Linked DNA regions of Homo sapiens. The gene in region 3 interacts genetically with the main gene of each other region. Each region holds a gene or a part of one and is shown on either strand. Other genes may lie near its edges. The genes, in order: ALKBH4, ETV1, ATR and PARP1.

What was found.
Region 1: changes in ATR (region 3) and ALKBH4 together harm fitness more than expected from each alone (negative genetic interaction), as found in Homo sapiens cells (one study listed by BioGRID).
Region 2: of ATR (region 3) and ETV1, extra expression of one rescues a mutant of the other (dosage rescue), as found in Homo sapiens cells (one study listed by BioGRID).
Region 4: changes in ATR (region 3) and PARP1 are lethal when combined (synthetic lethality), as found in Homo sapiens cells (one study listed by BioGRID).

Annotation. Positions count from the first base shown.
Region 1 is NC_000007.14:102,461,857-102,469,724, forward strand, and holds the start of ALKBH4 (alpha-ketoglutarate-dependent dioxygenase alkB homolog 4), read right to left. Parts: upstream 3,008-7,868; 5' UTR 2,981-3,007; coding exon 2,858-2,980; intron 1-2,857. Other genes in the region: LRWD1 (leucine-rich repeat and WD repeat-containing protein 1), read left to right, coding at 3,225-3,304, 3,961-4,195, 4,298-4,414, 5,483-5,623, 5,863-5,967, 6,206-6,331, 6,407-6,521, 6,698-6,798 and 2 more. UniProt on the Homo sapiens protein: Dioxygenase that mediates demethylation of actin monomethylated at 'Lys-84' (K84me1), thereby acting as a regulator of actomyosin-processes.
Region 2 is NC_000007.14:13,979,599-13,986,798, forward strand, and holds part of ETV1 (ETS translocation variant 1), read right to left. Parts: intron 7,088-7,200; coding exon 7,040-7,087; intron 6,815-7,039; exon of another isoform or gene 6,579-6,814; coding exon of another isoform or gene 6,518-6,578; intron 1-6,517. UniProt on the Homo sapiens protein: Transcriptional activator that binds to DNA sequences containing the consensus pentanucleotide 5'-CGGA[AT]-3'. Required for olfactory dopaminergic neuron differentiation; may directly activate expression of tyrosine hydroxylase (TH).
Region 3 is NC_000003.12:142,449,714-142,456,913, reverse strand, and holds part of ATR (serine/threonine-protein kinase ATR), read left to right. Parts: intron 1-3,680; coding exon 3,681-3,786; coding exon of another isoform or gene 3,787-3,858; exon of another isoform or gene 3,859-6,311; coding exon of another isoform or gene 6,312-6,341; exon of another isoform or gene 6,342-6,355; intron 6,356-7,200. UniProt on the Homo sapiens protein: Serine/threonine protein kinase which activates checkpoint signaling upon genotoxic stresses such as ionizing radiation (IR), ultraviolet light (UV), or DNA replication stalling, thereby acting as a DNA damage sensor.
Region 4 is NC_000001.11:226,377,043-226,384,242, forward strand, and holds part of PARP1 (poly [ADP-ribose] polymerase 1), read right to left. Parts: intron 6,142-7,200; coding exon 5,994-6,141; intron 4,167-5,993; coding exon 4,026-4,166; intron 3,123-4,025; coding exon 2,880-3,122; intron 2,600-2,879; coding exon 2,531-2,599; intron 2,233-2,530; coding exon 2,100-2,232; intron 262-2,099; coding exon 66-261; intron 1-65. UniProt on the Homo sapiens protein: Poly-ADP-ribosyltransferase that mediates poly-ADP-ribosylation of proteins and plays a key role in DNA repair.

The DNA.
Region 1 (7,868 bases), on a different chromosome or scaffold from region 3:
ACTCAGCCCTGGGCTCTGTGGCCTGTCTCCTCTTCCTCTTCCATCTCCAGGCTCCTCACACCCTGGGCTGCCACTCACTGTGGGCCGCTGTCTTTCTCTGTTCTTCCCTCCAGGGACCTCAGCCCCTTCCAATGCTTTACTTCCAGCCACCGACTCCAGCTCAGACCCCTCCTGAGATTGGCACTATCTCCTCCTGCTCCTGGGGCCCTCCCACGGGAAACATTAAAACTGGGAGTCCCCCGTGTGTCGGCTGAGCAGGCTGGACTTGTCCGAAAGGCCATGGAGCGCTCTTGAAGGGTTTTAAAGGAGTGACGAGGTCAAATGTGAATTTTAGAAAGATCTGGAGGGGGGAGGGGCAGATATGAAGGGTGGAGGCTGGAAAGCCAGTGAGGAACTGCCCCAGTGCCCTGAGATCCTGGATACCTCACTCTCCTTGTTCCATAGCCATCGGGTTGGGAAGATGTCACCTCCACATGGCCACTGGAACGGGTCAGACTTTCCGCAATTTTTTTCTTTTCTTTTTTTTTGTTTGAGGCAGGGTCTCGCTCTGTCACTCAGGCTGGAGTGTAGTGGCGCTCACAGCTCACTGCAGCCTTGACCTCCTGGGCTCAGGCAATCCTCCCACCTCAGCCTCCCAAGTAACTGGGACTACAAGCACACACCACCACACCTAGCTAATTTTTAAATTTTTTGTAGAGACAGGGTCTTGCTATGTTGTCCAAGCTGGTCTCAAACTCCTAGACTCAGGCGAGCCTCCTGCCTCAGCCTCCCAAAGGGCTGGGATTATAGGCATGAGCCACCGCACCTGGCCCCTTCCACAAATTAAAACTCTTAAGTTCATTCATATTGTTGTACAGCCGTCACCACCATTCAGAACTTTTTCATCTTGCAAAACTGAAACTCTTTCCCTATTAAACAACAGGTCCCCATCTCCCCTTCCTGAGCCCTTGGCAACAACCCTTCTACTTTCTGTCCCTGTGACTACCCTACGTAGCTCACACAACAGGAATCATGCAGTATTTGTCTTCTGTGACTGCTTCCTTAACTTAGCATCGTGTCCCCAAGGTTCGTCCATGCTGTAACATATGTCAAAATGTCCTTTTTTTTTTTTTTTTTTTTGAGACAGGGTCTCACTATGTTGCCCAAGCTGGAGTGCAGTGGCGTGATCACAGCTCACTGCAGCCTTGACCTCCCAGGCTCAAGCAACCCTCCCACCTCAGCCTCCTGGGTAGCTGGGACTACAGGTACGTGTCACCATGTATGGTTAATTTTTTTGTAGAGGTGGGATTTCACCATGTTGCCCATGCTGGTCTCAAACTCCTGGGCTCTGGCAATCTGCCTGCCTCGGTCTCCCAAAGTGCTGGAATTACAGGTGTGAGCCACTGTGCCCGGCCTGTCCTTCCTTTTTAAGGCTGAATAGTATTCTACTATGTGTATGCACCACATTTTGTGGATCAAGTCATCTCTTTTTTTTTTTTTTTTTTTTTTTTTGAGAAGGAGTCTTGCTCTGTCACCTGAGCTGGAGTGCAGTGGTGCGATCTTGGCTCACTGCAACCTCTGCCTCCTGGGTTCAAGCGATTCTCCTGCCTCAGCCTCCCGAGTAGCTGGGATTACAGATGTGCCTCACCAAGCCCGGCAAGTTTTTGTAATTTTAGTAGAGGCAGGGTTTCGCCATGTTAGCCAGGCAGGTCTCAAACTCCTGACCTCAGGTGATCTGCCCACCTCAGCCTCCCAAAGTGCTGGGATTACAGGCGTGAGCCACTGAACCCGGCCCAGGTATCTTGATAGATGCTTGGTTTGCTTCCATCTTTGGGCTGTCATGAATAATGTCGTGAATATGAACATGGGTGTGCAAATATCTCTTCCAGACCCTGCTTTTAGTTCCTTTGGATATATACCCAGAAGCAGGATTGCGGATCATGGGTAATTCTATGTTTAATTCATGAGGCATGCCATGCTGTTTCCATAGGACCTTGGGCACTTTTACCATGGACGTTGGGGCAGTCTTCACTGGCTTACCAGCCTCCACACCTTCATATCTGCCCGTTCCCTTCCCAGGATCTTTCTAAAATTCACATTTGACTTCATCACTCCTTTAAAACCCTTCAAGAGCTCTCCAGGGCCTTTGGGACAAGTCCAGCCTGCTCAGCTGATGCACCGGGGAGCATCTGTGATCAGACCTCCCCCCCCCCACAACCTCTCCAGCCTCATCTCTCTCACCTGAGGCATCACCAATCCACCTTCCTACCCCACGCAGTTTTCTGGGTTGGAATGCCCTTGCAACCAACCACAGTCCTTCCATGCCAGCCCAAAGGCGCTGAGTTCTTTTTCTTTTTTTATTTATTTTCTTTTTGTGAGACAGAGTCTCGCTCTGTCGCCCAGGCTGAAGTGAGGTGGCTCGATCATAGCTCACTGCAGCCTCCAGCTCCTGGGTTGCAGCGATCCTTGAGTTCCTTTTCGTTAGTTAACTGGAATTCACTGTCTCCTTGCCCATTGCAGTCCACGGCCTTCAGGCACCGTTGGACTGGTATTCAGCACCCTCGATCGACCCTTTCCGTGTCATCTCCCTGCAGGCCCGTGAAGCTCCCAGCGCCAGACCCGAGAGGCTACGTCGAGGTTTACAGGCAGATCCCCCCAGAGTCCCCGAGGTGACCTGTAATCGAACCCACCCACGTTCCAGCTCCTTCCCCACTCCCAAGCCCGCTCCTTAAAGCCCTCATCTCCTCACCCTGCATCACCCCTACCGTAAGGGTCCCTCACAGGCTTCGATCCCGGCCCCTATCATGGCCAAGCTGGACCTCAGTTTCCCCAGATGCAGAGCGACGTTTGTGGGCGCGGCCCCTCTCCCACCCCTTACCGCTGGGGGCAGCTCCCAGGGCGGGTCACTGCCGCGCTGCCGCTCGCAGATCAGACAGGTCCGGATGCCCTTGCAACCGCATTCCCGAAGGACTTCGGGGGTCTCGGCGGCAGCCGCCGCCATCGCGCCGTCCGCGTGGCCAGTGCGCAGGCGCGGCCGTGGGGGCCGCTGGGAGTTGTAGTCCGCGCCGGGCGGGGGCACGAGGCCTGGGTTCCGCTTCCTTCCGGTCGTTAACGCCCACGGGCTCGCGCGGCGCCGCCTCCTGGGCTCAGTTACCGCGGACGCCAGTGCCGGGCTCCAGGAGACGCAGGGCGACGCCACACGCCGGGGTGGCCGACTGGGTCAGCGCGGGCTGCGCCTCCTCGCCATGGGCCCCCTCTCGGCGCGGCTGCTAATGCAGCGCGGGCGCCCCAAGAGCGACCGGCTGGGGAAGATCCGGAGTCTGGAGTAAGAGCCGGGCAGCGGGTGAGGCTGTGTCCTCGGGGCCGGGCGGTCGGGGAGAAGAGCGGGGACCCTCCCCAACGGCCCGCTTGTCCCCGTTATCGCCCTCTGGGTTCGGCAGAGTGGTCCAAATGTCTTCTTGTTGGGAGATCGTGGCCCCACCCGCTCGCCGGGAGCCCCGAGGGGCCTCATCCCCTGAAGGGAGCCCGGACAGTTAGGGGCACAGCCTGCCGCTATCGTTAGAGGGCCTGGGAAGCACAGACGAGCCCCCGAAGGATCAGGAAGAGCATCCTAGAGGGGGCTAGGATGCCCCCGAGTCCTAAAGTAGTTGCAGCTTTTTTTTTTTTTTTTTTTTTTTTTTTTTTTTTTTTGTTAAGTGGTGTGGAGTCGGGAGTAGTGGCGCGCGCTTCTAGTCCCAGCTACTCGAGAGGCTGAGGCGGGAGGATCCCTCAGCCCAGGAGTTGGAGGCAGCTGTGAGCTATGATCGCGCCTAGGCGACTGAGTGACACCCCGTCTCTAAAAATAAAGTAACGGGGGGATGGGCGGGGCGGCTACACTTGTACGAGAAATGTCAGGTGAAAAAGCCTTCTGAGGTACCCGGGGCAGATTGGTGTAGGGTGCAAAGCCTGCCCGCCCCCTAAGCCTTCTGCCCCCAACTCCAGCCTGTCAGGATTGGAGCTGCTTTCCGAGCACCTGGACCCCAAACTCCTGTGCCGCCTGACGCAGCTGCAGGAGCTTGACCTGTCTAACAACCACCTGGAGACGCTGCCGGACAACCTGGGCCTGTCCCACCTGCGTGTCCTCCGCTGCGCCAACAACCAGCTGGGGGATGTTACTGCCTTGTGCCAGTTCCCCAAGCTCGAGGAACTCAGCCTGGAGGGCAACCCCTTCCTGACGGTAAGTGGGAGCCTCCCACCAGCTTCATACCTGGGGCCAGGACTCTGTTGGGCTCAGGCTCAGCATCTCCTGAGCCACTGCTCTTCACCCTCTCTTCCCCAGGTCAATGACAACCTGAAAGTCTCCTTTCTCCTGCCCACGCTCCGTAAGGTCAATGGCAAGGATGCGTCCTCAACTTACTCTCAGGTGGAGAACCTGAATCGGGAGCTGACCAGCAGGGTAAGGGGATGAGAGGATTATTGTGTGCTTAGGAGCTGTGGGGGCATTGGGAGAATGATAGAATTGGACATCAGGAGGATGTTGAGGAGGGTGACTGATAGAGGCTCTTTGCCCCAACAGCCCCTAGCCTGATGTGCTACTTTATTTATTTATTTATTTTTTGAGATGGAGTCTCACTCCGTCGCCCAGGCTGGAGTGCAGTGATGCGATCTTGGCTCATTGCAACCTCTGCCTCCCAGGTTCAAGTGATTTTCCTGCCTCAGCCTCCCGAGTAACTAGGATTACAAGCACCTGCCACCATGCCCAGCTAATTTTTTTTGTATTTTTAGTAGAGACAGGGTTTCACCATGTTGGCCAGGCTGGCCTCAAACTCCTGGCCTTAGGTGATCTGCCCGCCTTGGCCTCCCAAAGTGTCGGGATTACAGGTATGAGTCACCACACCCGGCCTGACTCTTCTAAGTAGCTTTTTCTGGGGTGTTTCTTTTTTACCTTTTTTTTTTTTTTTTTTTTTTTTTTTTTTTTTTTTTAGAGACAGGGTCTCGCTCTGCTGCCCATGTTGAAGTGCAGTGGTGTGATCGTATCTCACTGCAGCCTCCAACTCCTGGGCTCAAGCGATCTTCCCGCCTTAGCCTTCTGAATAGCTGGGGCTTTAGGCGCATGCCACCACGTCTGGATCATTTTAAAATTTTTTGTAGAGATGGGATCTTGCTCTGTTCCCCAGGCTCCAACTCCTGGCCTCAAGCGATGCTTCTTCCTCAGCCTCCCAGTGGCTGGGACTATAGGCACCTGGGTTGTTGCTGGTGTGTGTGTGTGTGTGTGTGTGTGTAGGCACCTGGGTTGTTGCTGGGGTGTGTGTGTGTGTGTGTGTAGGCACCTGGGTTGTTGCTGGGGTGTGTGTGGGGTGTGTGTGTGTGTGTGTGTGTGTGTGTGTGTGTGTGTGTGTGTTTTATGAGGCTGTGATTCCAGGAGGCTTCCAGCAGGTGGCGGGATTGAGATTCCCTGAGATGGAGGGCTGGGTCCGGAGGAGCTGGGGTGGGCCGGGCCTGGATCTGGTCCCTCTTGCACCAGGTCACAGCTCACTGGGAGAAGTTCATGGCCACACTGGGTCCTGAAGAGGAGGCTGAGAAGGCCCAGGCGGACTTTGTGAAGTCGGCTGTCAGGGATGTCCGCTACGGGCCCGAGTCCCTCAGCGAGTTCACCCAGTGGCGGGTATGTCCCTGTCCCAATGTGCAGGGAGTCACTGGCTCTCGTATCTCTAGCTGCCTGGAGGTCCCTGGCCATGAAGGGCTGAGGGGCTGTGGGAGTGGGGTGAGTCAGGGTGGGCAGCCCTGTTGGCTGGAGAGGCCCTTCCCCAACTCTGGAAGCATAAGCTCCCCCTGACTATGCATCGGCAGGGCTGGGGGCACCTGGGACTCTGCCCAGCTTCCTGATGGCCTGGCCCCACCCAGGTGCGGATGATCTCTGAGGAGCTGGTGGCCGCCAGTAGGACCCAGGTGCAAAAGGCTAACAGCCCAGAGAAGCCCCCAGAAGCTGGAGCTGCCCACAAGCCCAGGGTGAGTGCAGCTCCCAGGGCTCTGAGGCCAGCCCAGTCCCTCCTCCCTGGAGAAGCTTCAGGAGACCAAGGCGTCCTGGGCATGTGCCCAGGAAGCACCCCAGGTCCTGGCTCACTCCCTAGGTGACCCCGGGCCAGCCTGGGCCTCCTGCATCCGCAGTGAGGTGGGGTCCAGCCTGTGATGGGGAGGAAGGAAGCCCCAGGCAGACAGGCCCATGGTCACAAGGCCCCCTCCACAGGCCAGACTGGCGGCCTTGAAACGGCCAGACGACGTCCCACTCAGCCTCTCTCCCAGCAAGCGGGCGTGTGCCTCCCCGTCGGCCCAGGTGGAGGGCAGCCCTGTGGCAGGCTCCGATGGCAGCCAGGTGAGCTGAGGTGGCAAGGAGCAGGTGGCAGATGAGTCGGGGCTGGGCAGCTGTGACCCTTCTCTCCCCCCACAGCCTGCTGTGAAGCTGGAGCCCCTGCACTTCCTGCAGTGCCACAGCAAGAACAACAGCCCCCAGGACCTCGAGACCCAGCTGTGGGCCTGTGCCTTCGAGCCGGCCTGGGAGGAGGGTACATGGTGGCGGGCAGGCGGGGCAAGGGCCGCTGGAAATAGGGCCGCCTGGATGGGTGGGGGATCAGGAGACAGAGCTTAAAAGGCGCCATCAAGGCTGGGAGGAGGAGGCTGCAGGGAGGACCTAGATGGGAAATGTCTCTGCTCATCCGACCTCTCAAAACCGGGCACTCAGGGGCCACATCCCAGACCGTGGCCACGTGCGGCGGGGAGGCTGTGTGCGTAATTGATTGCCAGACGGGCATCGTGCTCCACAAGTACAAGGCACCCGGCGAGGTGAGTGCAAGGCCCTGTCCCTGCTGGGCAAGGGTGCCCGACTGACTCCTGAACAGCAGCATGGGGATGGATGCAGGCTCGGCCCCCTGCCCCATGGCCTTTTTCTTTCATGCTGGGGCTCCCTCCCCCAGGCCCGGGCTACCCGCGTGTTCACACCAATAGCTCTGCCCCAGTGACTGTTTACTCTAACCCCCGCCCAGGAGTTCTTTTCTGTGGCCTGGACCGCTCTGATGGTGGTCACACAGGCTGGCCACAAGAAGCGCTGGAGTGTGCTGGCGGCTGCAGGCCTACGGGGCCTGGTCCGGCTGCTGCACGTGCGTGCCGGCTTCTGCTGCGGGGTCATCCGAGCCCACAAGAAGGCCATCGCCACCCTGTGCTTCAGCCCCGCCCACGAGACCCATCTCTTCAGTAAGCCCCTCCCCTTCACCCCTGGGACCCCCAAGCACCCCTGTCCTGCTGCCCCAGTAGCCTCCACGCTCCCCTCCCTGGGATGGCTGTGAGCTCGGGCGCCTGCCGGGCCCCAGTCTGCACCGCTCCGACTCTAGCTTTGGCAGGAAGCCATGTCGCTTCAACCCTGGCTTTATCCACAGCCTGCTCTGTGGCCTCGGAGTTTTCCAACAGCCTGGGCCACTCTGTCCCCTGTCAGTGACCTGGGGGGATGCCCCTGCCCCCGGGTGTGGCGCCCCTGTCAAGGGGGATGGATGAGCCACAGGAAGTGGCCGCTGGAGCCACCGCATCAGGTTAGATGGAGGAAACAGGGATTGGGGGCCCAGGAGTGTTCCTGTCTCCTAGCCTCGGCCCGCCCTCCCCGCCTCGGAGGGGCTGGCCTTGGGACCGTGGGCTCAGCCTGGGATGCAGCCAGCAGGAGGGAGCAGGGTCATCTCAGGGCCACTTCTCCCCTACCCCACCCCCTCTTCAGCGGCCTCCTATGACAAGCGGATCATCCTCTGGGACATCGGGGTGCCCAACCAGGACTACGAATTCCAGGCCAGGTGATGCTTCGGGTGAGGCTGGGGAGTGGCCAGCTGCTGGGGCAGGGACACCTCGGTCTGGGTCTGATGCTCTGTTCC
Region 2 (7,200 bases), on a different chromosome or scaffold from region 3:
CATTTTTCCCATTATATCATTGTTTTGGTTTTCCCTCAGAATTAACAGCTAAACAGATATAACTATTGAGATGCAAATATATCAACCACAACAATTACTGGGCTTTTAAAAAGCCAACATTTATAAGAATCTAATAAAAATATAATATCCCTTTACAGGAAAAGTTAAAAATAGCTGGTGAGTAACAAAAGTATACTTGTAACTGAATATGATGGTATGAATGTTCTAAAGGTCTTTTGTTTGTTTTTGTAGCATCGTAAGCAGATTTGCAACTTCCTAATATATGTCACTGCAAGAGCAGCACAGACTCACTGATGGGTGTGTGATGTGTGCTGGAATATGTGTGAGGAAAAAAGGGCCAAATTTTAGGAGTAGAATAATCTAGAAGTTATACCTCGCAAATATACAGAAAATAGCTGCACGATAACAATCTGTAAAGAGTAAGAATAAGAATTCCTATTTCTGTTCTAACTCCTTAACATACTGAATAAATACTTCACACTTATTCCTGAACATATTACAGAATTTTAACAAAAAACATATGACTCACATTTTCACAGAAGCTAATCTTAAGAAACTGAATAGACCAAACGAAGCAGCATGCTACTTAAATAGACAAAGGCTTAAGTATACCTCTAATTTCAAGTTAGAGTAAACGGAAAGCAGTTAACTAAAAACACAAGTTGGATCTAGGCAAGGAAAATATGACAAAGTATTGCCACACTTGTATCATACATTTCCTTTTTTCTTCAATTCAGGGGAATACTGTGAAGGAGCAAACTGCAGCTGCCTGAAAACTTGCAGCAAGCCATACCAACTCCAAAGTTGAAAATTAACAATAGAGGTCAGCCTAAAAAAGCAATGTTTTTTCCACTACTATCTATTATAAACTGTGCTGGATATAATCACCTTTGGGGAATGAAAATGTTTCCCCACACTATGTAATTAAAGACGAAGGGGAAGAGGAGGAAAGGAGAAGGGGAGAAAGTATATACCAAAAGACCAATAAAATGCTTTCAAGGAGATTAAGCATGTGGATTTTATTGGTAATAGCTGGAGCGGCTCTATCAGTTCATTGCACGTTAATAGACCAGTTGCCATCAAGTCTCAGGATGTCGGCTTTAAAAGGGCAGTATCTGCACTCTCAGCTATTTGTTTTACCTAGATTATTATCCAAAGTTGTTTTACTGTTTTCTGTCTTTTTGCTACGTATCAATGCATATTATCAGAAAGAAATTCATAAAAATATTAATCATGACCTATATGTCACAAACTCACCAATTCTCCTTTTTAATTTTAATACTTTTCTTAACTAATATTGCCTTAGAGATGGGTAATTTTAAATATAGCTTGCCTTTATGTTATGCTTATTTTTAACTTTCAAATGAAATAATAATCATTACTTAAGAAAAAGTAAGCGATGAAAAAGTTTCCAAGGTTGGCTGCAGGGAAGCGAAAACCCTCCTATTCTTACAAACTATGTGCCTGTTGGGTTTTTTTTTAAAGCTAAGGAAAAAGTGGAAGAATTACAAATAAAACAAACGTCAAGTATAAAAGGGGTTAATATTTAATTAAAACCAGTTCTATCCACTGTAACAATGACCTGGAGCCAAACAAGGCGGAAGATGTATGAGTCATTCTTTCTGCCCGTGAATGAGACAGCTGATCTCCTCAGCAATTCCTCAAGACAAGCAGGCAGAACTGGAGTTCTGCCTCCATTCACAAAAACACAGTCCAGCATATGAGCCATGTGGCCCAACCACAATCTTTTCATGTCACACCCTTCCAGGGAGCTAAAGCAAGTAAACTTGGACTTGCAATATAAACACACCAATTTTATTGCTCTGTCTCAGAGCTCAGATCCATTAAAGGAACACATTTAAATAAATGACGTTTACAAAGTTACATACATACATACATACATACATACATACATATATATATATACACACACACAAATACATACATGCATCCTGCTTTACAGAGTAACTTGTTACAGAAACTTGCATGTATAAAACTAAGGAAGAAAAAAGGAAAAGACAGAAAGATGCAAAGAAGGTTTCAAGAAAGGGAAAAGAAAAACCATTACGGAAATGCCTTATTTTTCTTTTCTATTATCCAACTATTTTTATCATAAGAATACTGTAGATTGTTTGCTGAACTTTGTAGCATTTCTCTTTGAATCAAAGAGTTAGAAACAAATTTCTCATGAGAAATTTAAATTTTATTTCAAATAAGAAGTAAAAAAAGAAAAATCCACCTTCCTACAGTGGTATGCTGTTTAATCCTAAATTGAAGCTACAGGCCATGGAACAAAATAATCATGAGTCCACTAAGCTTGGTTTTATACCACATCCACTTTTAACATTAAAATGATTGTACAAATGTAAAAGCATTAATTATGCAGAAGTATAAACATATTTAAACATACAAAAAGGAGGCAACTTTCCAATGACAAAACACCTTTAATACTTGATCAAGGCATTATTTCCATATTTCTATATTCTTACTGTAACAGTAAAGTTTTAGTCGTTGTGTCAAATCAGCTTCAATTCCTAACTAAAACTGACCTGCAGTAACTTGAAAACTTAAGGGAAGCTCAGAGCCAACTAGCCGTTGTTTCTAGCCAAATATTTTCTCTAATGCTACAGAGGTCTGACTCTATTATTATTTTTTATTATAACATTATACACAAATCAAAGGGAATAAAGTTATACTACAAAATGTAACAAACTGCACATTTCCTATAACTGAAATAGAAAAGCTTAGCAATATTTTATTTATTAGGATCCTCTGGAAAAACTACACTATACTACACCAAATCCTATTTTTCTATTTTTAAAAAAAATTTCTATTTTGTAAATAAAACATGGATGAAAAAACATTTATGCAATTCCAATGAATGTTTAGAAATAAAATATACTTTATCTGCTGTCTTTAAGTCAAACTCAAATGGGAAGTCTTTCTCTCATATTTTAGATTATTTTCTAGCACATCAAAAAGAGGGGTGATAGCCCATCCTCTCCCCGCCCACACACACATGAAATTATTGTTGTTCAATTATAAGAGATTATATGGAGTTCTGTAATTCAATGCTTAATTCTAAATTCATGTTTTATGTAAACCACATAAAATAATGTCGTTTTTAAAGCCTTTAATCCTTATTGCACCAAGTGGGGGAAAATAATTCATGAGCACATAACCAATTTTATGTTCCATTAAAAAAAAGTAGGATTTCTGAAAAATAAAAATGAGTGTATTATGACTACTGTATATTGTGGATGACATTACACATAGTAAGTAACAATAGCACATATTACTTATGATTTTGAATATAAATTTACCATCAGCCATTAAAGCGAATTGAGGGGAAAGTAATGACATCTCTGCTTTTAAGTTGACCTGACTGTTGTTTGAAGGTCACATAAAACCAAAAGGAAAAAACCCTTATTCGTATGATGTAATAAGCTTTGCTGTAGAAAGGTTGTTCTTGCAGATAAAACTCCTACTCGAAGTGTGGAGGCAGCACTAAACTTGACTCAATACAAAACCACTGGAAAACATTTTACCCTGAAGACAGAGAATATTGTTGATGAAAGTGAACCTGAAAGAACATCTAGACCGGAAACAAAATAACAGTCAAGAGAGCAGCTACACATTTACATCAGATATATACTGAAAATTATTATTTCCCTTTAAGTTGTGTTAGTAGGTGAGCTTTAAGAAGCAAATTTGGAAGAATACAATCCTGTCTTAATTTTTTACATCTTTCTATTTTTGTTCTGGATACACAAGAGGTTCCATTTTAACTATGACTTTCAGGTTGTTAAGAATAAGACATCACCATGATGTTGATAGAATTGATATTTAAACTCATTATTTCATGGGATCAAATAATTGCAATTGCCTTTCTGTCAGTAGCAGTCTAATTTAAAAGACAAAGAATCAATAAAGAATTGCACATAGTAAAATTATAACATAAAGTGACTATGGCAACATTTTAAAATTGGCATATTCCCTGACTTTTTTTTTTTTTAACTACTGTGGTTACTGAAAACATTAACTTTGCAGTTTTCTTCAGAATAAGATAATTGTTTTAAACTGTGTTTAGATGTTAAAAAAAAAACCTTTAAATTGCAGTGTTATTTCTTGGGAAATGATATTAATGTAAAGTTATATTCTCCACCAACATATTTAAATCTCTGTATGGGAATTAACTTTCTTGGTAGAATGCAAGTATATTTTTACAGAGGACTTTACTGAACTGAAAATACTGGTCCCATCCCAACCCTCAAACAGTCCTGCCTTATCTATTCCAACTTCCCCTTAGAAATAAAAGAAATTTTATAATCCATAATAATTACCCATGACTAATCCATATGTTGCATTTGGGGTAAAATTTATGAATAGTCTTACAGAAAAAAAAAAACTAAACATGCTAAGATATCATTTCACAAATATTTGAGGACTTTTATAATTTTTCAAAAACACAATTATCATATGACATATGACAACTAACTTGACTCTTATGTCTAATAAGGTTTTTAGACCTGTTTAACTTCCCAGTGGAATTCTAACTCATGCGAGAAACTTGATTAACTGCCAATGATCTTTTTTAAAAGGGTCAAGATGTCTTAAAATTCCATGGTCACTTTCTTGGCTATGGAGCATTATGAAAAGAAATATGTAAACGGTTCATGGTCTGCCAATTTGGCAATGTTTTAATTTCTGGATGTCCAGAAAGACATAAATGGACACATCTCACTACAAATAAACTAGGGTAATTTGGGGATCTCTTCTTAGCTAATACCGTTCAAGAGGTGGGATAAGTCAAGTTAAAATATCAGTGCAAAATAATATATTTAATTTCTCAAAACAAAAAAAAAGTGGAGTCTAGAAACAAGAAGTTAAAAAGATCTCTTTTCTCACTATTAGGTTTTAAACATCACGTTAACAACTTTTTACTTACATCGTGATTAGATAAATTAACGTAAACTGTTTTGAAAACGCTTAAATTATTCTAAAATGAAATCTTATCCATAGTTTGTAAATAGTAGTCCACCTGGGAATTCATATAAAACACTCATGATTAATTCCTGAACTTAATTGAAATTATAATTCTTTTCTAAGTAAAGGTCCATGTTCTTCCAAATACACTGATCATTTTCTAGGATTATTTTTTGTAGTGCTAAATCTTCAGGTTTGATTTACAGGTATGTTAATAATCCCGGAGAAAGACTATTCTCTGCAGAGTTTTAAAAGATAAATTTGGATAAATTATTGCAATCACTTATCTGAGCTACAAGACACAAAACAAGTAAGTCAAAAGTTAAAAAAAAAGTACTGAAACTGATTATAAAATGGTAAGAGTCTGTCACAGATTCCACATTTTAAAATTCCAGGAACAGAGTTGCTATGCACATTCAAAATCTGCCAGCAAGTGCACTGACTTGGAATCAATGAGATTTAAACATCTAAGAACCAACAAACCTTCCAGAACAATTAAAATAGATATTTTAAGTTATTTTGGAGAAGCAAATAAATTCTCTCATAAAGGTAATGTTCTCACAACCTTTGACTTTGCAAAACTAATAGGCATAAGTTAATACAAGAATCTCCATGCAAATTTTCCTTGAAAAACTTGTATCTGAATATGACTTATGTTGCAATAAAAAGTAATGTATTGCAGTAAGTTTCATTTACACAGACTAGCAAAATGATCCTTAAATATAGCCAAAACTTTCAGTAAGTCTTACCTTCATTAACATATAAATACAATCATCCTTTCAAAGGACTATTAGGAAAGCTATTTAACTTTAAAGATTGATAAAGATTGAAAAAGCTCTTTGGAGAACTAGACTATCAGCAAAACAAAGAAACTTATTTTACATGCTAACAGCAACTTGATCAACTGCATTCAAGACCACCGATAAAACACGTCAGTCTGCCTCAAAGTAGCTACAGTAACACCTGGGTTCCATTTAAAGAGACCCACTCTCTCCTTTTTAACCATCTTAAAATCTGTTCCAAAATTTGCATGTTTCCCATATAATGTGAACACACAAATAATACTGTTATACACTCAATGCTTAAATATCTATAATTTTTCTCTTTGTATTTCCCACAAACCACACCATAAAATTAATGTTTCACATTTGTATGCCAAATCCAAAAGAAAAATTTCAAATTATGAATGCCAACAGAAGTCCCTCAACATTAGGCATTTTTGAAGTTGTATAAAGCTTTATGAAGCAATCTCATTTTCCTATAAAGTTGCATACGATAAAAGATATAACAGATTGCACCACAAAATTTTAACAAAAAATAATTCAAAATGAAAGTAATGCCTTTAAATGTATCCTTGCTCTATTAAATAAATCCTAATAAAACTGACAAAATAGCAAAGGTCAATTTCAGCAAACATAACATGAATAGTAACACATGGAAAACATTTTTAAAATCCTCATATCTCCCATTTATTTTAAACCCATAGATTTCCTAAGCATTAGATACACACCTAACGTTCTGTGTTGTGAACAAGGTGGAAAGAAGACACTTGCACTTAAATCTTGAAGCATCCCGTCCTGATGAACCCAGAGAAACTAATTTCTGCCATCAGAAAAGTCCTCCACCAGAACACCAAATAATGATATGCGCTGCTCTAAAGGAAACAGCAAGCCAGCCGGGTTCTGGCTCTAGGAGGTCTCTGGAGGTACAATAATATAAACCTGATCAATTGCAATTAAAATCTGAACAGAGGCTTAGAACTTGAAGTCTTGGTGCATTAGTTCTTGCCAAAAGCAGATGTGATTGTGAGCTGGAAGCAATTTCTCCTGGTAATTTGTGATGACACTGGGTAGTACAGCCCCAGAGTCCCCAAAGACAAACTCATCAGAGGCTCTAATGTATGCATGACACATGAGGTGGCTCTTTTAGAGCTCAATTAATTGGGCTGAATATTAAGACAGCAAGTTCAGGACTTCTTTTCTTTCTCCTTCTAGAGTTGCTTTCCCCCCTTTTAAAGCAAATTTTGCCTTACCTTCTGCAAGCCATGTTTCCTGTAATTGACTTAGATCTTGAAAGAGTTCTAAAAAACAAGTCAAAGACATAAACATAAGATTTGCAAATCTTTAATCTTCATTAAATGGAAATATTTGTCATGAAATTGGTATTAAATATAAATTTAATTTCAAGAGACGC
Region 3 (7,200 bases):
CTTAACATTTTGAAGAACTCTCAAATCATTTTCCAAAGCAGTTGTAACACTTTATAATCCCACTAGTAATGTATGTGGGTTTCAACTTCTCTGCATCTTTTCTATCTTTAGATAACATCTTTATCTATCCTGGTTATTGTCTGCCTTTTTTATTTTAGCCATTCTAGGGATGTGAAGTTGTATCTCATTGTGGTTTTAATTTGCACTTCCCTAATGACCAGTGATGGTGAGCATCTTTTCATGTCTTTGTTGGCCATTTGTAGATCATCTTTGGACAAATGTCTATTGAAATCCTTTGCCCACTTTTAAATTGGGTTTTTTTATTCTTTTTTTTTTTCCTTTGAGACAGGGTTTCGCTCTGTCACCCAGTCTGGAGTGCAGTGGCGTGATCTTGGCTCACTGCAACATCTGCCTCCTGGGTTCAAACGATTCTCGTGCCTCAGCTTCCTAAGTAGCTGGGACAGCATGTGTGCATGAGCCACTATGTCTGGCTGATTCTTGCATTTTTAGTAGAGATTGGGTTTTACCACGTTGGCCAGGCTGGTCTTGAACTCCTGACCTCAAGTGATCCTCCCACCTTGGCCTCCCAAAGTGCTGGGATTATAGGCATGAGCCACCATGCCTGGCCTATTCTTGAGTTGCAAGAGTTTGTTTCTTTGTTTGAGACAGAGTCGCCCAGGCTGGAGTGCAGTAACGTGATCTCCACTCACTGCAACCTCCGCTTCGTGGGTTCAAGTGATTTCCCTGCCTCAGCCTCCCCAGCAGAGAAGGGGTTTTGCCATGTTGCCCAGACTGGTCTTGAACTCGTAAGCTCAAGCCATCCACCTTCCTCAGCCTCCCAAAGTGCTGGGATTACAGGCATGAGCCACCCCGCCCAGCCAAGTTGCAAGAGTTCTTTACACATTTTGGATACAAGACCTTTTAAGATATGATTTTCAAATATTTTCTTCCATCTGTGGGTTGTCTCTTCACTTTCTTTGATGATGGCCTTTGAAACATAAAAGTTTTAAATTTTGATGCAGTCTAATTTGTTTTTTTCTTCTGGTTATTTTTGGTGTTTCTGTTGTCATATCTAAGAAACTATTCCCTAATCCAAAGTCATGAAGATTTACACCTATGTGTTCTTCTAAGCATTTTTGACTTTTAGCTCTGCTATTTAAATCTTTTATCTGTCTTCAGTTATTTTGTAGATATGGTGTAAGGTAGGGGTCCATATTCATTTTTTTGCATGTGCATATCCATTAGTCACAGCACCATTTTTTGAAAAGAATATTTTGCCCCTCGTTTAATTATCTTGGCTTTTTTGTTGAAATGGTCAATTGATTTTCAGCAATATTCTGTTGATCTATATGCCTAACCTTATGCTAACAACACAGTGTTTTGATTGTTGTACCTTTGTAGTAAATTTTGAAATCATAAAGTGTGAGTGTTCCAACTTTGCTTTTTTTCCCCCAAGATCATTTAGCTATTATGGGTCCCTTGTATTTCCATATTAATTTTAAAATCAGCTTGGATTTTGATAGGAAGGACATTGAATTTGTAAATCAATTAGGGAGTATTGCTGTCTTAACAATTTGGGAGTATTGCTGTCTTAACCATGTTAAGTCTTCTGATCGATGAACATAGAATGTTTTTCCATTTATTTGAATTTTATTTTTTTCATCAATGTTTTGTGGTTTTTAGGGTCAAGTTTTATATTTAACTTTTAAAAATTGTATTCCTAAGTATTTTATTCCTTTTGATTTTATTCTAAATGGAATTTTTCTTAATTTCATTTTTGGATTGTTCATTGCTAGTGCATAGATATATAATTGATATTTATATATTGATATTGTATCTTACAATCTGCTGAATTCATGTATTAGTTCTAATAATTATTTTTGTGCCTTCCTTAAGATTTTCTCTCCACAATAACATGTCACCTGCAGATACAGTTTTTCTTCTTCCTTTTTAATATCAATGCCTTTTATTTCTTTTTCTTGCCTACTTGCCCTAACTAAATCAGTGTCGAATAGACATGCTAAAAGTGGACATCCTTGTCTTGTTCCTGATCTTAGGGGTAGAGCAGTCAGTCTTTGACTTTTAAGTATGATGTTAGCTGTGGGAAACAGATTGTTTGAAAGGACTTTTAAAGCTTATTTATTCACCTTCATTATTTAAAAGCTGTCTATCGGGCCGGGCGCGGTGGCTCACGCCTGTAATCCCAGCACTTTGGGAGGCCGAGGCGGGCGGATCACGAGGTCAGGAGATCAAGACCATCCTGGCTAACACGGTGAAACCCTGTCTCTACTAAAAATACAAAAAATTAGCCGGGCGAGGTGGCGGGCGCCTGTAGTCCCAGCTACTCGGGAGGCTGAGGCAGGAGAATGGCGTGAACCCCAGGGGGCGGAGCCTGCAGTGAGCCGAGATTGCGCCACTGCACTCCAGCCTGGGCGACAGCGAGACTCCGTCTCAAAAAAAAAAAAAAAAAAAAAAAGCTGTCTATCAGACATTATGGTAGAATACTGGTTAGTTGGACATATGCAAAAGCAAATTCTCTGAAATAGGAAGTATATCATCATGTGGAACAGTTACCAAGAGCCCCTGTGTTAGTCTGGGTCAGTCAAGAAATAATTTCTGGAGGAAGTAGTTGAGACCTTAAAAGTTAATAAAGTTGACCATGCAAGGGAGAAGAGAGTGTTCTGAGTGATAAAAATATCAAGGCAAGTGAAGTCATGGCCTGCCTGAGAAATACAGTATGTATTCCAGAGGGTATACTTCCAGGAGGTGGTGCTAAGAGATGACGCAGGACAGGTAAGCAGGGGCTAGATTATGAAGGTCTCACATGGGGCCTGTTACTACATTATAACTTTGCCTGCAGAGCAACCAGAAGTCATTGAGGATTTTAAGAAGGAATAAAAAGGGGGCAAGGGGTGGAAAGAGATAATCTGATTTGTACTGTAGAAAAAATAGGGTCCTAGTTTGGGCCAACAGCCAGAAAACTAGTTAGAGGTTTATTGCAGTAACCCAGGAAAGGATGATGGTGTACTGGATAGTGTCACGGCCGTAGAGACGGAGATAACTGAAGAGATTCCAAAGAGATTTAGGAGTTGTAATTGCATGTTAGAGGAAGACGGGGTGAGGATGATTCCTAGATTTTTGTCTAGGGCAAATGGGTGGATGATGATTTGGGGAATACAGGAGAAATAGTTGGGAAAAGGTAATTAATTTTATTTTGGAGATACTGAGTTTGAGGTGTTTGGAACATATCCAACTGGGTATTTCCCATAGGTAATTGGATTTGATGTTTAGGGTGCAGAAAAAAGGTCTGGGCTAGGTCTATATGGTAGCTATAGATGTTATATCGTTATTGAAGACATGGTAAGGGATAAAATTCCTTCATTCAAAATATAGTCATTTACCAGTTCACAGTATACACTTAGAGATGGCACATAGAACCCATCTTACTCTATTCTCCAAAACACCTCTGACTCCCCTCTATCTTGCCTTTTTTCCTGCCTTCCCTTCTCTTACCCTCCCCTCACACCAAAACAGAAATTTCACATAACTTAATGAAGACGTAGTAATGTGTATTATAAGAGTATTACCATTAGCTTCTCATCCTTCACTTAAATATTGATGTCAGCAAGATTTCTTCTTGCAAAGATAACATCATACCATAATATTTGTTTCAATTTTAGTGTCTTAAAGACTTTTCTACATGATCCTCTTGTGGAATGGAGTAAACCAGTGAAAGGGCATTCCAAAGCGCCACTGAATGAAACTGGAGAAGTTGTCAATGAAAAGGTTAGTAGAAGGTATAGCTTGATATGGGCTGTAGTCCTCATCTCTACAAATGAACTTGATATGCAGCTATAGTTCTCATCTCTATGCATGAGAACTGCTTGGAAATACTGTTAGTGACTATTGATTACTCTGAAATCTAGTTCTCTAGTATCACAATGCCATAAGTTTTCTTTATTGTCAGTAATGTTAACAGTATTCGCATTTGTATAATAAAAGTTCATGGCACACTTGTTTAACCATAGACAATTCACAGTTATGAGATACAGTAGGAAAAACTATAGTACAAATTGCCTGAACTTACAGAACAACAGGTCTGAGCTTTAATATCATGATACCAGTATGTCACAAGCTATGTTAACAAATGCAGCAATTCACTTCTTACTTAGTTGAAGCTGCAAAGTTTGCAGATAGTTTTGTTGTTGTTGTTGTGGTGGTGGTGGTGGTTGTTGTTTTTGAGACAGAGTCTCGCTCTGTCATCCAGGCTGGAGTACAGTGGCACGATCTTGGCTCACGGCAACCTCTGCCTCCTGGGTTCAAGCAGTTCTCCTGCCTTAGCCTCCCAAGTAGCTGGGATTATAAGCGTGCACCACCACAGCTGGCTAATTATTATATTTTTAGTAGAGATGGGTTTCACCATGTTGGCCAGGCTGGTCTTGAACCCCTGGCTTCAAGTGATCCACCCACCTCAGCATCCCAAAATGCAGGGATTATAGGCATAAGCCACTGTGCCTAGCTCAGATAGTTGTTTTTAATAAGTTAGAATAGATTGAGGATTCGTTTTTTTTGGTGGGGGGCACTCTTACATCTTTAATAAGTCTTGTACAGGCTTACTAAATACAATGAATTATACCAACTATATGCTAATAAAGATTAAAAATTTACATTCCAGTTAACTACCTAAAGAGTTTAAGTCCACTTTCATCCTACTGATATAGCTCGAGGAAGGCTAGACCTGTACGCCCCCATCCTTCATGTCATCCTTAACCCTTTGTCTTGAGAAAGAAGGTTTAGCTGCTTCTTTAGTTCTTCTAAAAGAACTAAAAGAAAAATTTCTTTTTCTTGCTCTATTATCTTCATCTGTAGGGTGAGATTAATATTTCCAGAATTGTGGAAAAATTCACTCTGTAGCAGTTGAAGAGCAGATGGTCTCTGGGACATGTTCCTTTTCGTTAAGTGATAGATATACTTGGCTTGTACTGGATACCTTTTACTGAGGGATTCCAATATCTGACCAGTTCTTGAACCTGTTAAAACTTCTGCTCGCTCCATTTCTGTTCTAAACAGCTGAAAGAGCTCTAGCAGGATCACACTCAAGCTATATACATATCTAACTGGACAAAGCCAGCCCTGGTCTCTACAAATAGTTTTTGTTTTTTTTTAATTAGCTGGGCTCAGTGGCACACTCCTGTAGTCCCAGCTACTTGGGAGGCTGAGGTGGGAGGATCACTTGACCCCAGGAGTTGGAGGCTGCTGTGAGCTATGATGACACCACTGCACTCCAGCCTGGGCAACAGAGTGAGACCCTTGGCATCATACTCAGATCCTTCCAACTGCTGGGATGAAGCATACAGACAAGTGCCCACTCTGGATATAGGTGTTGGTGTTCTCTTTCTGTTTCTATGGGTCCAGTCTGTGTTCTTTTGTAAGATGTCTGGGCAAGCCAGACCAAAGTCTCCTATTTTTACTTGCTGATCAGGGCCATGAAGAAAAATATTTCTAGGCTTCAGATCTCTGTTTACAATACCCATGTTATGTATGTAAAACACACCTTCCACTAAATCTTGAAAATTTTTTGTTGCAACACTGGCCATAAGGACAGGCAAACTTGCCCACACACTCTTGGCCCTGTTTGTTTCTCTCAGCTAGCCAGTCCCACAGCTGGAGCTTGCACACCTGCATCTGGATGTGCAGCATCAGGTGGTACTGCACCTCGATCCCCAACAAGTTGAAGTTTTCTTTGGAAGATTCCTCAGTGGATGTGAAATTCTCCTCTAGGAGGGAATTACACCTGAGCAGCAGGGGCTGTTTCACAATTGACCAGGTAGACAAACCAGCCAGGCCATTTTCCTGGAGCTCCAGGGATGATTCATATTCACTGGTGTCTCTTAAGACGGAATTGATGGTGTAGTTCACAGCTTGTTGTTCTGATTTTGAGTGTCAGATTCTGCAAAGGGTTTTTCTTTTCTGAGGTGAGCTCCGCGAAGATAATGGGTGAGCTGCTATTTTCACCATTTTTAACACCGTATTGGTATCTGTCTGCTTGGTCGGAGAACACTTCCAGAAATGGCAACTGAACGGAAGCTCTGTCTGCTTGTGGTTGGACCACTTGAACATGTTCTGTCCACGCAGTGTGATAACGAATGATATTAGGGTGCTGAAGACCTGCCAGCACCTTCATTCCCCGTAGTTCTTTCATGTAATGTGTTTTTGTTGCACCCTTAATCAGGATTTTTTAAATTGCATAATACTGACCATCTAATTTATTCCTGACCTTGTATACTCTTCCATATCCACCTTTTCCTAAGATGGCAAGTTCTTCAAATTCATTTAAGTAACGTGAAGTTTGTGCTTCAAAGGGTACTTCCCTTGATCTGATTTTCTGGATATGAGAAATAGCCTCACAAGGATCCTGATGAACTCTCTCTTTAGTGGACCTCATTAAGTGAGTAATAGCTCTGTGGTGATGTAGTCTCAATGAGCTAAACTTGTCACAAGTGAAAGAAGACAGCAGCCCCATTTTGATAAAGGTCTGGCAAAGTAACTTAAACACTGTCTTGAATGAACTGGGTTTGGTTCACGCACATGGCTCAAGTGCTTCACCAAAGAAATAAGCGGCAGCTGGTTTGCAACTGCAAAAGGGAAAGTTGGCTGTTGTAGGGGTTATTTTAATACCTGGAGTTCTGCTGGAACATAAGTCATATTTGGAGTCCAGGCTCTTGGCGGAAAAGTCGATGGCAGATGGCACAGCAACAGTCTCCACCCCGTGGCCCTCCTCTTTGTGCTCGTGGGCTGCAGCGCAGCCCACCAGCCCACCCAGCACCACCTCTGAGAATTATTCTTCTAATAACGTTATTCTTCCTTTTGCATTCAGATATGCTTAAGAAATTGTACAGTTCCAAGTAGCTCACTTAGAACACCCATTTGCATGTACTAACATAATGTAAATATTAGGCAGTACAGCATTGTTATTTGAATATTCATTGAAATGTTTAAGTCCTAAACACTTCCAAAGCAGATTTAAAAAATTATTTTTCTAGAATTGTAATGTGTAAATAATTCCCTGGTATTTCACGTAGTCCAGAAACATGTCCAAGCAGTTGATGTTGAATCAATCTTGCGAGCCTCCAAATCAGTATCACAAGCTAACTGTATTTGTTTAATTTCTTCTTTTCCTGTATTTGCTCTTACAAAAGG
Region 4 (7,200 bases), on a different chromosome or scaffold from region 3:
TTTCTAGAATAAGGTGTCCCTTCCTTTTCCTAGAAGCAGACAGTGTAAGGGCATTATGTGGTTACCTGGCCATAGTCAATCTCCAGGGGGTAGAACTTTTTGGGATACTTCGTGAAATTTTTGGAGTGCCAAGCGTTCCCGGTTTTTTCTTCATATAATTTCATGAAGTGCTCAATGGCATCCTCCTTGGACGGCATCTGTTCCAGTTTGTTGCTACCGATCACCGTACCCACACGGCCCCAGGACCTGAATATCCAATACCTGCAGTGGGAAGGAGGGTGTCAGATACACATGTGTGGGTCAGCTGTCCCATTTCAGGAGCTCCCCTTTCCTGCCATTACATTCACGTGGGGAAGAATTTTACACACCCCAAAAGGATGGTGATTAACACAGAACAAACACAACTGCTATAACAATAAAGGGTCTTTATTTTACTTTTCATTAAACTTTCAAATCATATTGACTACAAAAAATGCCAAAGAATAGTTTAAACTTGGTTCTGGCAGCCAAGCCTGAGGACTGAATCCTGGAGTCTGGAGACCTTTGCATAAAAATGATTCTAGTCCTCTCCCCAAAGAAATACAAAGTACTATCTGGAAGTCATGTGTTCAAGGAGTCAACCCTTACAGCTGTACCCTAAAAATAATGAAACTTTCAACTCAGATCCAAGGCCAAGACATGATGAAATGAGGGGGGCAGTGGCAATGGCTCCTCAGGTCCGGTGACCTAGAGATGCAGGCTGTCATGTTCAAATTCCATCTCAATTGAGGGTACACATCACACACACCCAGCTGCTGTGCTGCTCAGCTTTGGATGAGCTAATTTTTGATTAACTCAAAGCAGAGGTAATGCAACACTTAATTGTCATTTCATAATAAATATATATATATCATAAACCCACATACAAGATTTGTGTACATTTTAAAGATAGAACTACAGATTTCAAAGAAAATTTGGGACTCCCTGGCCATTCTCTGGGCTACTGAACAGGGGTATAAAAATTCATTCTCTGCTTGGTTTTTCCTGTGAAAATTTTTGAGAAGCACTACCTTGATCTACGTTGAAAATTTTTTCTGACCCTAACAGCCTACACCACCCTTTCACTTAACACCAGGAAATCTAAGCCACCAGAAAAATGTCCACATCCACAATCAACGTTAGAATTTAGTAAGAGTTCCTTCCACATGCCTTTACACTGACACATAAATGCTATTTTGTGGTGGCTGTACTGAGGGGCAATGAACTCACTAGATAAGGACCACTCTGCCTAGAAACATAAGGACAAAAGCCAGCCCAACCTCTCACCACCTCCCAGCTGCTGTACCCCACCATCCACACTCCAACCTTGCCTGTCTCACCATGTTAAAAAAAAAAAAAGGCAAATCCAACCTCTTTAGTTACTAGGGAGTTTGAACATTAAAGAGTAAGTTCAACGCTTGCCAACCTTTATTTGCTTCAAAGTTTTAAAACATATGTAAAATCAGAAAATCTTGATTCAAGTAGCTGAAAGAAAAGCCAGCTGGGGCTGGGTGCAGAGGCTCATGCCTGTAATCCCAGCACTTTGAGAGGCTGAGGCGGGAGGATCACTTGAGTCCAGGAGTTTGAGACCAGTCTGGGCAACACAGCGAGGCCCGTCTCCATAAAAAATAAGGCATGGTGGTGCGCACCTATAGTCCCAGTTACTCAGGAGGCTGAGGTGGGAGGATTGCTTGAGCCTGGGAGGTCAAGGCTCCGCTGAGCTGTGATTACGCCACTGCACTCCAGCCTGGGTAACAGAGCGAGACTATTTCAAAAAACAAAACAAATAGTTGCAAAACAACAACAAAAAACAAAACACCAAACAAAAAGAAAAGCCAGCAGAAGAATATGTGAAACCATACCTTGGGACAACTGTACAAGGACAGCAACGCTACTGGTTAGTAAGTGGCTTCTTTCTCCCCTTTAAGCAAAGGCCTTATAATTTGTTTTTGATCTCTGTGATTAGATTTCATTCCCCAGGCACTGGGCCTAACGGGTTTCACAAGGCTGATGGCACAGCACTAACCAATGCAGGACGGGCCCATGTCTCTGCACAACCAGGCTACACCTGCAGAACTCACCTGTTTTCCTTGTCGTCCTCCAGAAGCTGCAGCTTGTAGTAGGAGTTGGTTCCTTTAACGATGTCCACCAGGCCAAGGGTGGCACTGAAGACCTTCCCACCTTTCTCCAGGACATGCGCAGAGTGTTCCAGTCCTGTCCCAGAGGAAAAGCACCTACAGTTTTCTCTCCCCTTGAGGTGCTAGCACTCTCACGGAGAAGGGATCTGCAGGCCTGAGGTTCACGCCTCTTGGATACACTACCACCACCCTCGGGAGGCTCCCCACAAATGTGTGTTCTCAGGACTGGGGGAGCTGGTGAAGGAGGCCTGAGTGAGGACAAAGGCACGACCACACTGCCCCAGGTATGCTGCGGGCATTTGGATGTGTGCTCCTAGTCAGCTGGGGGTTGGGGGGCGGCACAGCCCACTTTGCTGGCAGTCCTGTTTGCTTACCAGAATCAGGATCCACAGCTGCTCCTCCTTTAAGAGTTAATTTCATTCTCTTTTCAGATTTGTTGATACCTTGGAGGAGAACAGAAAAATGTAAACATGAAGTTAAATGTAACTAAAAAGTAAGGGGAAGGTAGAAGGCAAATGAGTTGTTCTCATTCCCATCATCTGTCAACTCGGCATCTATATACACACTACTCCCGCCACCCCAAAGCGCCTGCCATTCTGTGTCCTGCTCTGCAGCACTCAACAGGCCATGTCAGGGACACAAAGGGAGAGGTTCCGTGGACAACAACCTGGCCACCAATGTCCCTGGCTTTTGGCCCTGGAGGGGGCAGCTTGGGGCCCTCACCTTCCTCCTTGACCTGGCCCTTGCTTTTTTTGGAGAGCGCAGCCCCTGACTTCCCTCTTGGGGCCACAACTTCAACAGGCTCTGCCTTCACCTCTGCCCCCCAAGGGGACAAGATGTGCGCTAAGAACAACTCCTGAAGGCTCTTGGTGGAGGCGGAGACGTCCTGGAGGAAGTCCTCAGACACAACTCGGATGTTGGCTTCCTTTACTTCCTCCATCTTCTTATTCATCTTTTCCACCTCCTCTGTTCAAATTGAAAGGAAAAAAAACCAAAATACAAGTTTAAAACAAAACTGAAACTTCAAATTACTACAGTTATATTTAGTGTGTACTTCCAAACCCTCAGCATTCACAGCTCTCCTTTGCTTCCAAGTCTAATGCTCCCAAGAGTGTTTTTATCAGCAACATTCCCCCTTTTCTAAGGTATGATGAGCCAGGGCAGCCTTCTCCAAACCATTCTACAGCACGATGTTAACAAACACTCCAAAGAAAAAACACCCTGATGTCAAATATGTATGGGAAATCCTGTATTCTATTTCTCTGGTTCCTGAAGACCTACAGTGGTAATCAGCATAATAAACCCACACAGAAACCTGTTTAGCTTTGTTTTACCCTACCTTTTCCAAACATACTTGAACCTTGAACTTCTGTTTTGGCAGATATCTATGCACATCTTACAGAGCAGTGCGAAGTGATGAGAATACAGGTTGAGCAGCTTCCCTTATCCGAGATGCTTGAGACCAGAAACCTTTCAGACCTTAAAATACTTGCTTCATATTTACTGACTGAGCATCTAATCCAAAACTCTGAAATCTGAAATGCTCCAATGAACATTTCCTTTGAGCATCATGTTGTCACTCAAAAAGTGTTGAATTTTGAGGCAATTTGTTTGGGCTTCGGGACTAGGGAGACTCAACCTATAGTAGCTTACCGTCTTTAGTTGAGAACACGCAATGCATGTGAATCTACAGTACAAAGCAGCAACACTGAGAGCAAATACTGGTTTCCCTTCATAAAGAACCACAGCGATGATGATGTTAAGATCCAGTTTTTCAGCGCTGTGTTCGACTCTTCCTCACTTACTCGTCATCACAATCATAAGATACAGAAGCATTGTCCCTGTTGCACAAATTCAGATTCAACTCACTTTTGGTGCTGATGCACAGGGAAGCCTTGTTGGCCGTCCCCGTCAACTTCCCCCCGAGTTTCTCAATCATGGCCTTCACTTCATCCTTGTTCCGGGACAGCTTCCCGAGAGTCAGGATCTTCATGTTGGATAATGGCTTATCTGGGATGAAAGGAGAGAATCATTCAGCAAGGCCAGCTCTGGTGCTGCTCCCCAGTAAGGGGAGGTGGAGGAGCAGGTGAGCCAAGCAGCGAGCTCCTGGGAAAAGCCTATGAAAATACACTCGCGAGAAAACAGGACGGGACAGCAAGCTGCCACCTGAGTACCTACAGATGTCCCTCAGCACAGAAAGGACTGGGCAGGGAGCAAGCCACAAAATGCCACTCCATGGCCAGGCCAGCCTCGCGGCGTGAGCCAGGCAGCTGCGGGTTACCCCAGGTCCGCGCCAAGGTCAGGCTAGGAAGGCTGCATCTGCGGACGAGGGACCAGGAGGCTGGAGTCGGATGGGAAGAGGGGTAAGGTCACATGAACCCCCAATTCCTTCTGTTATTCTCCCAAACAAACTGCAATTCTTATGAATTAACCCCATTTTAAAATGAGACATGTCCATGATAGTCCCTCAAAGCAGTGGCCAGCACAATCACACGGAGCTGAGCTAACTGATTCTAGGAGAAAAGCAGCAGCCTGGTGTGCACTGACCCAGGCCAGAAAGGCCTGGACAGGGGTGTGCCTTCTGTTCACAGCAAACAACACAGTGCAGGTGACACCCGTCCAGAACTGGAGTAGCTGCAAGGAAAAGTCCTTCCTGCCTTCCCTGTGAGGGCAAACAACTAGGAAACACTGACAGTTTAACTGAAACTGCTGAGGTCTCCAGAGAACAAAATTATTGACTCATGCTGAACTGCAAGTCAGGGGAAAGCAGAGGAGGGAACCCTCCATGGAGGGGTCAGAATGCCAGCCCCCAACTGGCCCTTCATGTGGGCACCTGGACCCAGGCTGCCAGCAGCACAGTGGACTCGGGATGACCACCAGCACACACTGCAGTGACCACTGGTCCCCTCTCAGGATATGAAAAGGAAGTCAATAACAGGTTTATGTTCAAGGAAGGAACCCTCATCCTCCACCCACCAAACTGTGACCTTCACCAATAGACTATGCCACATGTCTCTGAGTAAACAAGCAGCGGGTCACTTCTCCTGCCAAAAAAATACGTTGCTCTCACTGTCTTGGTTGGCTTGGGGCATTTCTCACTAGTGCTGATTAGTAACTCCCTCTGCATACAACAGAGACTTGAGCATCACACCAGGGCCCGGATGACTGGTGGGCGCAGGGCAGCCTGGAGAGTGAGGCCTGGGATGCTCCTCTGCAGTGCAGTCAGGCAGGAGACCCTGCGCCCAACTCCAGGTAAGGCTGTCGACCTAGCCTTTCTTAGGAGCCCCTCTCCTAGCCTCCCAGAGTAAGAGCTGCTTGTTCTTCTACAATGTTTATTTTATTTTTAGAGATAGGGTATCACTCCATCGCCCAAGCTGGTGTGCATTAGCGTGATCATAGCTCAGTGCAGCCTTGACCTCCCAGGCTCAAGGGATCCTCCGCCTCAGCCTCCTGAGTATCTAGGGCTAAAGGCACATACTCGGATTAATTTTAAACATTTTTGTAGAGATGGGGTCTCACTACATTGCCCAGGTTGGTCTCAAACTCCTGGCCTCAGCAATTCTTTTGCCTCAGCTTCCTAAAGTGCTGGGATTACAGGTGTGAGTCACTGCTCCCAGCCGATGCTATGTTCTTAACACTCTCCCACCTTGCTGTGGTCAGGGGTGTAACAAGCCAAGAGAAGAGGCCTATCCCCTGCAGGGCAAGGCTTCCCCATGGTGGGGTCAGCAAAGAGAGACCCTTGACGGATACTTTCTTCACCAGCTCCACACCACCAGCAAGTAGTGGGCAAACAATTCCTGCAAAGCAGCTCTAAGACCGGGGTCCCAAATGCTGTACCTGCTGAAGCAGAGGAGTTCACAGCAGCAGGAGCCGAGGCTGTGGAGGGCGGAGGCGTGGCCGCCACGGAGGCGCTGGTTTCTGGGGGGAATATACGGTCCTGTTTTTTAACCTTCAATTTCTTGAGGTAAGAGATTTCTCGGAATTCCTAAAAAATATTAAGTTTTAGTTAAGAAGCCAGCTCTCCCTTGAGGTAACCACCCCATAGACCAAAGAGGATTTGGCTTGTCCAAATCAAATAATCTCTTTTTTTCTTCTTACAATAAAGAGTAACAAAAAATAGAAAAATGTGAGGCTTTAAGGATGAAAGACAGTATTATTGCTGCTACAGTACTTATTTCCGGTACTTTTACATTTATAATAGGGCTAATATTGTGGCTGCTTTAAGAGAAAAATCTTTCCCTAAAAAAAACAAAAACAGAAACCAGTGGCCAATTCGGTCAGGGAACCACCACTGGAACTGCTGTATGACTACAACCTCCCTGGCCTCATTCCTGAGTTGCTCCCTTCGAGAGTTAATAGGCCTCTGTGGGATCACATGCCTACTCCAGAACTCCAAGACCCCGAATACTATATACACACTGGGAGATTATTACCCAAAAGGAAATCACAGTATTTGCTTTCCTTTTTAGAAGAAGGAAAAATGAATGCAGGGAGCCCTATGGTATTCACTATAAATTCTTCCATCAGCACAATTCACTCTTCACTCTGACTGATTTACAAGGGGCCTTGCTCTAAATGGTCACTCAATAAGTATCAAATACATGAAGCTCAGGGAAAGATACTGTGCTCCCAGGTCTTCATCCAATCAAGAAACTGCCCTTTCCAGCTATGCCTGTGTTCAGGATGTCAGTTAGATACAAGAGGTCACAGATTGCTTCCGACACACACAGACCACCTAATATGTGCTACCAACCATAGTCTGGTTAAAAAGACAGTTTCTGCTCTTCAGAAAGTATCTCATTCGTGACTGAGCATCAGCTATAGGAAGGTGAACTTTAACAAAGGAGCTAAGCTATGCCAGAGGTGTGCCAAGGTGATGTGAGACAGGGAATGCTAGCATGCACTTGGAGGCAGTGATCTGCTAAGCCCACTGGGAGCTGAAAACACAGGGGACTGCCTAAGCACAGCCATCTGAGTAGCACACGGTGGCATGTGGGGTGCCCTGGCTAGGCGCCCTATTGCTAGGTACTCCTAAAAAGAATGA